Regions from separate parts of the Homo sapiens genome. Here region 2 is linked to region 1. Evidence: fine-mapped expression QTL. A gene starts in region 1. The other region holds a variant in brackets. All regions are shown on one strand. Distances are between the middles of the regions. Region 1 holds the start of ELAPOR1 (endosome-lysosome associated apoptosis and autophagy regulator 1). Region 2 overlaps ELAPOR1 (endosome-lysosome associated apoptosis and autophagy regulator 1).

Region 1 (5,373 bases):
CAGAGCAAGGAGACCCTGTCTCAAAAAAAAAAAAATATCCCACAATGATTCCTCACATCCCTAGGATGAAACCATAGCTAGCTAGCATGGTGTACACAGCACACCCAGCCAACCAAGGGCATCTCTCCAGCTCTGATTTCTGAGTGCTTCCATTGCACGCCTACACTCCAGCCCTTCTAGACTATTTGCAGTTCCCCAAATAAGCCATTCTCTCTCTCCTTTCCATGTATTTGCACCTGCTGCTTCCTTTGCCTTGCATATCTGGTTCCTGTTTCCTTCTTCCTAACTCACATTCTATCCACTCCCTCACCTGGCCTACCTAACTCATATTTGGACATCAAAATGCATCTGCTCTGTGAAGCTTTCCTTTAAGTTCCTGGTTCTCACGGCACCCTGCACACAACTCTGTCACAACATGTGCTATTGTGCAAGCATTTTTGCTATTGTCGGTCTCTCTTTACTACTAGAGTTCCTTGACAGCAGAAGCTACATCTAATTTATTTATATATCCTTGGCGTTTAGCAGAGTGTCTGGCTTATAGTAAATAAGTATTGAATAAATAAAAAGGGGCTCTCAATATTGTTATTAGACCACAATCACCACTTAATTCATCTTATTGTGCACCACTTCATATATCCCAATCACTTCTACCAGAAAAAAGATCATCTAAGTTCCGAAATCAGTGTCCACCATCATGCTAAACACACACATAACAAACATATTGTGGTGTTAACCAGAAGACAGAGACAGTGTGAACACAGATGTGTAAAGCATGACCTCTGGTGGCTTTCAGAGGATTCTCTCCCACTCCATATCTCATTTCTCTTCAGAGAACAGTCTTCCAAATAGGGAAATGGGTAGCTTGAAGGAACCTGGGCACTGCCATAACTTATACTCACAATTGATTTGAGCTGCCAGAGCCCCTTGTTCCTCTAGACTAGAACTCTACTTTCCTCTGCTCAAAAACGCCTCTGAAACGTTAGCCGACTTGAATATGGAGATAGGGAGGCAGGCAGAAAACAGACTTCCCTGGTACCCGACTGAGTGTCTTCACCAGAGTCCTTTATGTTACCATCTCTGCTCATCACACAGACAGAAAGAAGACTACCGGCGACCCTACTGGGAATCTGCGCAAGAAACCACAGTACCTTGGAAGCCCGCAGTTCTCCTAAGTAGGAATCATCGTTATCTAATGTAGGCTGCTGGAAAGGGTCCCGGGTGGGAGGCATGGCTAAATGCCTAACTCTTTTAAGAGGGATGGGAGGCCCGCTCAGCCGCAGCACAGCCTCACTGGCATAAGATCCCGGGTCCCAATTGTTTGGAGCGCTGGTTTCGGTTGCCAGGCAACTGCCCAGCCATCTATGACAGAGGAATTCCCTCAGAGGAGGGCGCCACCTGGCGGCTGACCACGGGAGGCCCCTGGGGAGGAAGCTCCGGGGACTGCAGAGGGAACGTTCCGCTGAGCGGGCCCGAGACTTGGAATTGCACTCCTGAGCCTCGGCGGAAAAGTGCTGGCTGCTCACCATCAGGACTTCTGCAAAAGACTTCAGTTGAGGAAAGAAGTCCTGAAAGATGACCCAGAAATTTCCTTCTCCCTCGCACCTAACAAAAGGCTTTCAAAGCCATGAGAGAATGAGGATGTCAAGAGACCAAAGAGGGCCGGGCGCGGTGGTTCACGCCTGTAATCTCAGCACTTTGGGAAGCGGAGGCGGGCGGATCGCTTAAGCCCAAGAGTTCGAGACCAGTCTGGGCAACATGGCGAAACCCCGTCTCTACAAAAAGTAGGAAAAAAATTAGCTGGGCTTGGTGGCACGCGCCCGTAGTCCCAGCTACTCGGGAGGCTAATCCAGGAGAATCTCTTGAACCCGGAAGGCGGAGGTTGCAGTTAGCCGAGATCGCGCCACTGCACTCCAGTGTGGGCGAGAGAGTGAGACCCTGTCTCAGAGAGAGAGAGAGAGAGAGAGAAAGAGAGAGAGAGAGAGAGAGAGAGAGAGAGAGAGAGAGAGAGAGAGAGAGAGGCCCACGTGCGGCGCTTGGGAAATTGCGGCTAAGGCAAACTCCTCGCTTAAACTCGGATCAACTACAGTGTCAGGGCTTCTCTTCTAGCCGGTTGTAAAAGCACGGATGGATTTGGCGGGATGTAAGATCTCCAGGAGTGGCCTTCGTAGGAGGGAACACGTACTGGGGCCTCTTCCAGGCGACGACGTCTGGAGGGTGATCTCTCCATCTTCTTTCTCTCGGTTCACACGCCACGTGTGCAACATCGGAGATGCTCATAAAATAACCCCTGGCCCGAAAGGGCAGTAGAAAACGGAAATTTGTTGGCTGGCTTGGAGGATGCTTCCACTGTGTTCTTCACACGAGCCCCGGGCCTGCCTGTTGGGCCGGTTGCGCACCCCGGGCGCGCGCTCTCCCGCGCCCACGCCGCGCGCACCAGCGGCGGCGGCTGCCATGGCGACCCGCAGGTGAGCTGCAGAGGCGCGCGTGGTCCCTGCCCCACCCGCGCGGAGCCAGAGAGGAGGCGGTTGTCAAGGCGACGTGGGTAGGAGGAGAGGACAGAGGGAGGAGGAAGGATGGGCGGTGTTGGCGTAGCCGCAGGGAGGTGACTGAAGCGAGCCTGGCCTCTTGCATCCTCCGCCTGTGTACCTCCCTCCCCTTTTTTTCCGCCTTCTGCCAGCAGAAGCAGCAGCCGCAGCACCTGAGCCGCTACTGCCGCTCACTCAGGACAACGCTATGGCTGAGCCTGGGCACAGCCACCATCTCTCCGCCAGAGTCAGGGGAAGAACTGAGAGGCGCATACCCCGGCTGTGGCGGCTGCTGCTCTGGGCTGGGACCGCCTTCCAGGTGACCCAGGGAACGGGACCGGAGCTTCATGCCTGCAAAGAGGTACTGCCGCCCCCCTACCCGATCCCGCTTTGGTCACAAAAGTCTTGGATCCAGGCGGAGACCTTGGGGACCCAGGCGCAGAGAGTTTCAGACGCCACGGAGTTTAGATTTCTTTGGGGATGAGGCGTGGGGGGAGGGAAGAGGAGCCAGTCTGGCGTCATGAGGAGGCCAGCACATTGGAGGACTCACGGATAGATCATCCTCACAGATTGGGATGCTGAGCTCAGCGAGAAAGGTCCCAGCCCCAAGAAGGGGAGCTACCTGGGTACCTGAACTCAGAATGAGGGAGGCAGACGAGTTATTTTCCAGTTAGGATGAACTCACCTTAAAAGTGGTTGACAAGAAAAGATTATGCACAGAGAAGCAAAATAGGAAGAGGAAAGAAGAGTAGTGGGAGAGGAAAGGAGTTAGGAAGGCCAGAAAAAAGTATCAGAGCGAAGTGGTTTTATCATGGCTACACAAAACGGAGTGTGAAGGTGGGAGATGTGCGAGAGGGATGATAGGATTCCAGCTCTCTAGTTCCTTGTTTATTAAACATCGGTTAGTGCAGACTGTAAAATGTGTCTCCTCCTTATAGCTTGGCCTCCCCGCAGCGTACTATGTTTAGTGTACCTGACAGTACACGACTCACCTTTTTGCAGATTTTGAGTTCTTCAATATCTTGTGTTCTGCCAACCTCTAGTCTCCTTCTCTGACTTAACATATGTCAAAGTCTTTTTCAAGGTATTTCCAATATGTTGGAAGCAGAATTCAGACAATAGGTAGTCAATCTCTTATAACCAAAAATAGCTTTTGAAAAGTCATCTTGGAGGAACATAAAAGGGCACTAGCAGCAACAAAACTAAGTCATTTCTATGTTATTGAAATAACAATATTTGGTTGTGCTCTGAGCAACTTTTTTAGAAACCATATGGCAGAGGCAACAATAAGATATTTACAAGAACTACGTTGGGGAAGGCAAAATAAAAGTTCTGTTATTTCTGTGAAATGTGAAGGACTTCATAAAAAGTCAAGCATCTAGCTCTGTAAATTTAATCCCAAATATCAAGCTTGACTAAGGTTTTGAGAGGTTAGAATATATATATAGATGTATTTTCTTTACTTTAAAAAATATATGTTTTAAAATAGAAATGAGGTTTCGATATACTGCCCCGGCCAGTCTCTAACTCCTGGGCTCAAGCGACTTCCCACCTCGGCCTCCCAAAGTGCTGGGATTATAAGAATGAGCCACTGCGCCCAGCCCAGAATATTTTTTATAAATTGTTAGTGTGAACTGATTGGCAACAACTCCATCCCATATGGAGATAAATTCTTATAAAGATGTTCTGTGTCTACAGCACAGCAGGTCATAAAGAAGTCAGGTGTGGGGGGGAGGATTTTTGTGTGAATAAAGATACTTGATTTTGAAGATTCATGAATATGACATAAGTGACCCCAGTGAGTGGGACTTTTGATAACCTTTATTAGCTCCAATGACAACCTGCCCTGGGCCATCTACATTTCCACCTAGCCGCATTATGACCTGTTTTAGAGATCGCAGGGAACAGTATGATCTTATCAGTGACTGGCTCACTGGCCTTGATGGCCTGTGGTCTAACCAACCAAAATAATGAGACCAAGAAAGCCCACTTGCCTAAGAATCAAACAAGGGAGTTTCCTGAGTGGAAGGTAAGAATCATACAGTTTAACTACCAATTCTTGTTGAGATCTTTGTCAACAATGGAAAATATGAGACATTTCAGAAATTAAGCACTTCTATTATCTTGGTTTGGAGGAAGGGAAGAATATTGATACTTGAGAACTCGAACTTGTGTACGAATTTTGCCTTTGGTCCTGTTTGAATAACCAATATTTGCCTAAGCAAAAGGTCTTGCCACAAAGTGTAAGCTTAAGGTAGTGGAAAGCTATGGAGCTCAACCTACCAGGGTTTCAGTCCTGTTACTTACCACGTGGTTTTTGGATTTGTAGAATGGGTATCAAAATAACACCTACCTCAGAAAGGATTGCTTTGAGTATTGAAATAGAAAATACATTGGAAACACAAAAGAGAGTTACCCACCCTCCTTCTCTGTTCAGCTTCTTTCCCATTAGATCCACACCCCATGCCAGATTGGAAATGGCTTAGGAGGCATGCCCATTTGCCACAGGCGTCAGCAAGTCCTGTTTACATTCTCCTTGAGCAAACAGTGGCCATTGAACACCCTCAACTCCAAAACAATCAGGGAGAGAATAAACCCATTATTATAGTATTCATTTGGCAATATGAACTGATCAAACAAGTTTGGGGGCTTCCAACCCCAAATGGTGAAAAACCAATTCAAGGTAGACCAGCTCTTCTCTGTTCTTTTTTTTTTTTTTTTTTTTTGGTGAGACAGAGTCTGGCTTTGTTGCCAGGCCAGGCTGGAGTGCAGTGGCATGATCTCGGCTCACTGCAGCTTCCACCTCCCAGGCTCAAGCAATTCTCCTGCCTCAGCCTCCCAAGTAGCT
Region 2 (5,373 bases), 76 kb after region 1:
ACATTTCTGACCTTGGCTGTGCCTCAGTTGTTTCTCAGGGACCAGGATGGCCCATCCATTGGGGTCAGTGAATGTGCTGCTCCAAGAGCTGGCCCGAGACAGTTTGCCAGCTCCTAGGACTCTCCTCTCCCTGAGACTCACAGGAGGCAGGTGAGGTTCAAGCCTGGGGCTCTGGCTGTCGCAGCCCTCCGCAGGGAAGAGGGCCGAGCTGAGCAGGGGAAGGAGGAGCCCAGGGCTCCCCATCAGTTAAGGCAGTCTGTGTCCCTCCTTAAGGACTTGTTTCTTATCTTGAAAAATATGGACAGAGGCCTTATTCATCCTTCTTTTCATATGTATGGTATCTGCACAGATCATGTTCATCAACCCCTCAGTTCAACCTATAAGGGCACGTTTTTGTCTGTGACTCGATCTGAGGGCCACATGGGAAGAATGGAGCTGCCCACCTTCACCCCTGACTCAGCCGGGGTCTCCTGCGGGTCATCTCCACTTCTGTACCCAATGCAGGGGCCATGTTTCATTCATCTCTGAGACACCAGGTCTGGCACATAGATGCATTAGGATTTACCCAATAAATAAAAGAGCAAAGAATGTACCACTCAAAAAATAAGTGGGGACATCTCAGCCACCCCCTCAGTCCCCGGGGGACATCTGAGCCACCTCCACCCTTGTGCCTTTCTGTGTTCTGGGATTTTCACCAGCTGCTTTTCCTGTGACCTTGGTAGCAATAAGATTCTACAGTGGAATCGGAGCTTTCTCTAAGACAACTGGTCCCACATTCTCTGTCATAAAGTCTTCATTAGAGCTATTCCTTGTCACCCAGGCAACATTCATTTGGCAGATAGTGATTGAACACAACCATGACTCAGGCACTGGGCTAGGTGCTTGGGATACATCCGTGAGCCACACAAAGTTCCCCACCCCAGAGGAGCTCTTACCTGGCCCAGAATCTGGATCTCTGCCCCCAGCCCCTATCCTCAAGGTAGAGTCCCAAAGATGTCCTAAATCTCACACAGGCTGAGTTGTGCTTAATCCATTTCTGCAGACACAACTCATGTACAAATGGGCCAAGCCGAAAATCTGTAGCGAGGACCTTGAGGGGGCAGTGAAGCTGCCTGCCTCTGGTGTGAAGACCCACTGCCCACCCTGCAACCCAGGCTTCTTCAAAACCAACAACAGCACCTGCCAGCCCTGCCCATATGGTTCCTACTCCAATGGCTCAGGTAACCTCCTCACCACCCCACTCTCTGCAGCACATCGACTGTGTGGGTGGGCTGTGTGGGCACTAACAGTGGCCAGCTGAATGCAGACTCTGCCCTTCCAAGGGAGGCAGTAAGGAATAAGGACCAGGCCACCTTTGAGGACTAAATTCAGGAGAAGAGAGGTCAGGGCTGGCCTCGTCTGCAGGTCAGAGTCATACTTGAGGCTGCCTTCCTTCCTCCTTGCTCCAACTGCAAATGTGACTCAGGACTGAAGGTGCCCAATCCTCAAAGCAGGGCTTCCAGCATATGGCAGAGATGCTGACTAGGCTTACAGGGCTGGGATGACCAACCCCACACAACCAAAACCTATAAGCCATGCTGCCTTGGGGGGATTTGAGTACCTGTTAAAATGAAAGCATTTAATGATAATATGACAATAATATGAACTATATGTATCAGACTAGAAGGTACATTTAAGTTTTGAAATGGAAATTGGGGTGGGCAAATAGGATGGTTGGCATATTGGAATGAAGGCTCAGTGTTTACATCTTGAGTTAAATACATTGTCAGAATGTTTTTGAGTCAACTTGATACAACTTCCTGCAGCAGTACTCAGCAGCCAGGCTTCTGGGCTGCCCGCTACTGTTGCAACTTGTCTGTGTGGCAGCAGCTCCAGTCAGAGTGACTGCAGCCTTCCCACTGAATGCATGGATCTTGTTTGTGGTTCCCCAGACTGTACCCGCTGCCCTGCAGGGACTGAACCTGCTGTGGGATTTGAATACAAATGGTGGAACACGCTGCCCACAAACATGGAAACGACCGTTCTCAGTGGGATCAACTTCGAGTACAAGGGCATGACAGGTAATTGCCTCTCCCTGTGCCATGAGCTGTCAGCTCCCTGCACACCCTCAGTTCTTCCAACTTCACATTTCTTCATAATAGTGATGTCTGAGAAAAATAAGCTAACCATGTCATGCATTCCCTTGAAAGTTCCACTCCTCATGGACATATGTTCTGCCAAGACAGCTTTAGAGGAAGGAACAGAGCTAGAAACATGAGCGTGCACTTCAAAGGTCTTGCTCTGAGAGCTTCAGGGTTTTTGACCAAAGTGGCAGGATAAGTAA[C/T]ACGGTTCATGTTCAGTGGTGGTTCTGGGCGCCTCAAAAGATGGTGTCAAACCTCCCTTCCAGAGTGTCATCTGGGTGCACATTTGCCTTGCACCCAAGAGCACAAGGCATTAACTCTCCTCTTTCCTTTTCAGGCTGGGAGGTGGCTGGTGATCACATTTACACAGCTGCTGGAGCCTCAGACAATGACTTCATGATTCTCACTCTGGTTGTGCCAGGATTTAGGTGAGGAATCCAAAGCCCAGGGGAGTCCAGGCCAGCTTGGCCATATCCGAATCCCACGTATTTTGGAATATTGTAGAGGAGAGGGCTTCCGGGGTTGTGTTTCATTTCATTTCAAATGTCAGTTGAGAACAGAGGGTACAGTTTGACCGAGGTAACCCAATGCTATCACGTTTTTCAAGTTGCTGCCCATGTTGATTTACCGACTGCTCTCTCTCCCGTATAGCTTCTCCCAGCCATTAGTCACGTGCTATTCAAATTCTTCCTCCTCACAGCATCACTTAAGATTAGAAAAAAAATAAAAATAAAAAATAATGGGGTCAGAAATGCCCATAGACAGTTCATCTTTATTTGGGGCAAGAAGATTGGGAAGGATTATTCTTACTGTATTTGTCCCCATATCCCAGGAAGACCTAGGGCAACACGAAATTTGTTTCCCACTAAACAAACAAACAAACACGCACACACACACACACACCTCCTGGCAGTGTGGTGTGGTGGAAGGAACACCAGACTGGAAGACAGGGCACTTGTGCTTTGCCGCTTACTGGCCGTGCGACCTTAGGAAAAGTCACTTCACCTGTTCAGGCTTCGGGCCCCTCATCCATAAAAACAGTGTGTGATTTAAGACTAACTGAGGTTCAGATGGCTTTTCCAGCCCGCTGGTTAACACAGCTGCATAGAGATAAGCTGAGAACTGGAGGTCCTCAGAATTCAGGCAAATGGCTAAAGCCAAAAGGAAAGCCGTGAATGAATTTCCAAGGCCAAAGTGAACTCTTCTGCCCATATGTGCTCTAAAGATAAGAAGCAGGCACTGAATATGCTTCCCTAGTGCCAGTCTGACACCTTCATTTCCTTCTTCGAGGTCCCTGCTTCCCATCCCTGGGATGTTGCTCAGTTTGCCTTCCCTTAACACACATTACTCAGAGCTAGCCAGATGAATGAAGCCTGTGTTTGCAAGGTGAGCAAACTTTTTAGGCTTTTTTTGGAATAACATTCAAAAAGTACTTTCCAATTTGCAAATCTGATCGTCATAGTAAAGTGTTGCCTCATCCCCCATCCCCACTACTACCCCAGCCCGCTTGGGCATGGCTCTCTCTTTCCCAAAAGTAGGACCAAACGGAGGACTTTGCTGGATCACAAATTCTGCTCCTTTAACCCCGGCAAAGCTCCCCAGTGCTGGAGAGACAGCTGCTGAGTAAATGTCAACAATTTACAGTCTTATGATAGACGTGCTTCTCAAACATAAATGTGCACACGAATCGCCTGGGAATCGTATTAACATGCAGATTCTGATTCACTGGGCCTGGGAGGAGCCTGAGGTTCTGCAGTTCTAATAAACTCTGGGAGATGGCCATGTTGCTGGTCTGTGGACCATATTCTGCTAGTGAGGTGATACAGCATTTTATAAAGGACCGCCACATCTGTCATGCCTTCAGGTCTCCCCGCGATGATGGGGGGTAGGTAAGAAAGAGATTTCATCACCTCCATTTTACAGATAAGGAAACCGTGGTTTGGCTAGGTCAAGGTCACATAGCTAGGAGGGCAGAATTGGATTTAGTCCACACGCTTTCCATCATACTCAGAACTTAACCCTGTCCCCCAGCAGACGCTCTGCTGTTGTCTGGGCTCTTCAATAAGCACTGCCTGGCCTTTAGAACTGACTTTTAATTTCTGCCCCTACAGACCTCCGCAGTCGGTGATGGCAGACACAGAGAATAAAGAGGTGGCCAGAATCACATTTGTCTTTGAGACCCTCTGTTCTGTGAACTGTGAGCTCTACTTCATGGTGGTACGTTTTCCTTTCTTTGCCCGCTAGAGGGCCTCCAGGGGAGGGTTAGCCCCATCTGCCCCATTGGTGTGTCCACGTGACTGACACCCCCCCTTGTAGTGATTCCACAGAGGAAAGGCCCAGACTGACCAGCAGGGACTTCACAGTTTAACAAGGGTCTCACCAACCGTGATGGCACCTGGGATGGCAGCCACATGGGCACCCACTTCCCCTCTGGCCATCGCACCCGCTTCACTTGTCTGTCCTGGGTTCAGGGTGTGAATTCTAGGACCAACACTCCTGTGGAGACGTGGAAAGGTTCCAAAGGCAAACAGTCCTATACCTACATCATTGAGGAGAACACTACCACGAGCTTCACCTGGGCCTTCCAGAGGACCACTTTTCATGAGGCAGTAAGTTCCTCCCCTTCCTCAGACCCCCAGGAGAGACCCTCTGAACCCAGGAGGACTCCTAGCATTAGCTTAAGTATGAGTGTGAAGTTCAGAATCTGAGGGTTAGAAGGATCTCAGGGGGTCAAGCAGAAAACTGCCTAACCCAGCCCTCTGAGGACCACCTAGTCTTGTCCAGCTGACTTCCTGGAAAGATGACACCATAAGAAATAAGTTGGCCCTCCTTGTAGTCCCTGCCCTGATACATGTGTTACCAGACTTGTTGTTGTTTTTAATAATAACAACTCTGGTTTTAGTTTCTTAACTCAAAGGAATACAGGCTCATTGCAGAAGACACAGAAAATAAAAATAAACAAAAATAAGAAATAAAATCAGCCATAATCCTACTACTCAGAGATAAACCAGTTAACATCTGGACAATCTCCTATACACTGTTTGTTTCTGCACAAGTACATTTTTTTCTCTTTTATAAGGAAAAGACTTGCTTTTTTCATAAAACTGTATATATTATATTTTCCCCATGGTACTTAACATTTTTATATGTCCTATAAATGGTTCAGTCTCATTTTAAAATGACATCAAATGCACACGAAGAGCTACTGGTAAGTGAGTAAAAAGAGTCAGATGCTTCTCAGATTCTTCTTAAG

The links. PIP is the estimated chance that this variant, and not a neighbour inherited with it, causes the effect.
Region 2: its variant is fine-mapped to the expression of ELAPOR1 in whole blood (INTERVAL, PIP 0.97).

What each region holds. Positions count from the first base shown.
Region 1 is chr1:109,111,451-109,116,823 of GRCh38, forward strand. It overlaps ELAPOR1 (endosome-lysosome associated apoptosis and autophagy regulator 1), which reads left to right and starts at 2,665. Exons shown (of 22, transcript NM_020775.5): 1 at 2,665-2,886. The coding sequence starts at 2,734. It overlaps CFAP276 (cilia and flagella associated protein 276), which reads right to left and starts at 1,297. Exons shown (of 5, transcript NM_001245025.3): 1 at 1,149-1,297. The coding sequence starts at 1,229. RefSeq lists a silencer at 2,417-2,486.
Region 2 is chr1:109,187,135-109,192,507 of GRCh38, forward strand. It overlaps ELAPOR1 (endosome-lysosome associated apoptosis and autophagy regulator 1), which reads left to right. Exons shown (of 22, transcript NM_020775.5): 9 at 1,043-1,220; 10 at 1,932-2,060; 11 at 2,458-2,548; 12 at 4,232-4,337; 13 at 4,592-4,729. Among named protein-coding and RNA genes, the nearest start is that of SARS1, 24 kb to the right of the region's middle. The variant C/T (reference allele first, on the strand shown) is at 2,324.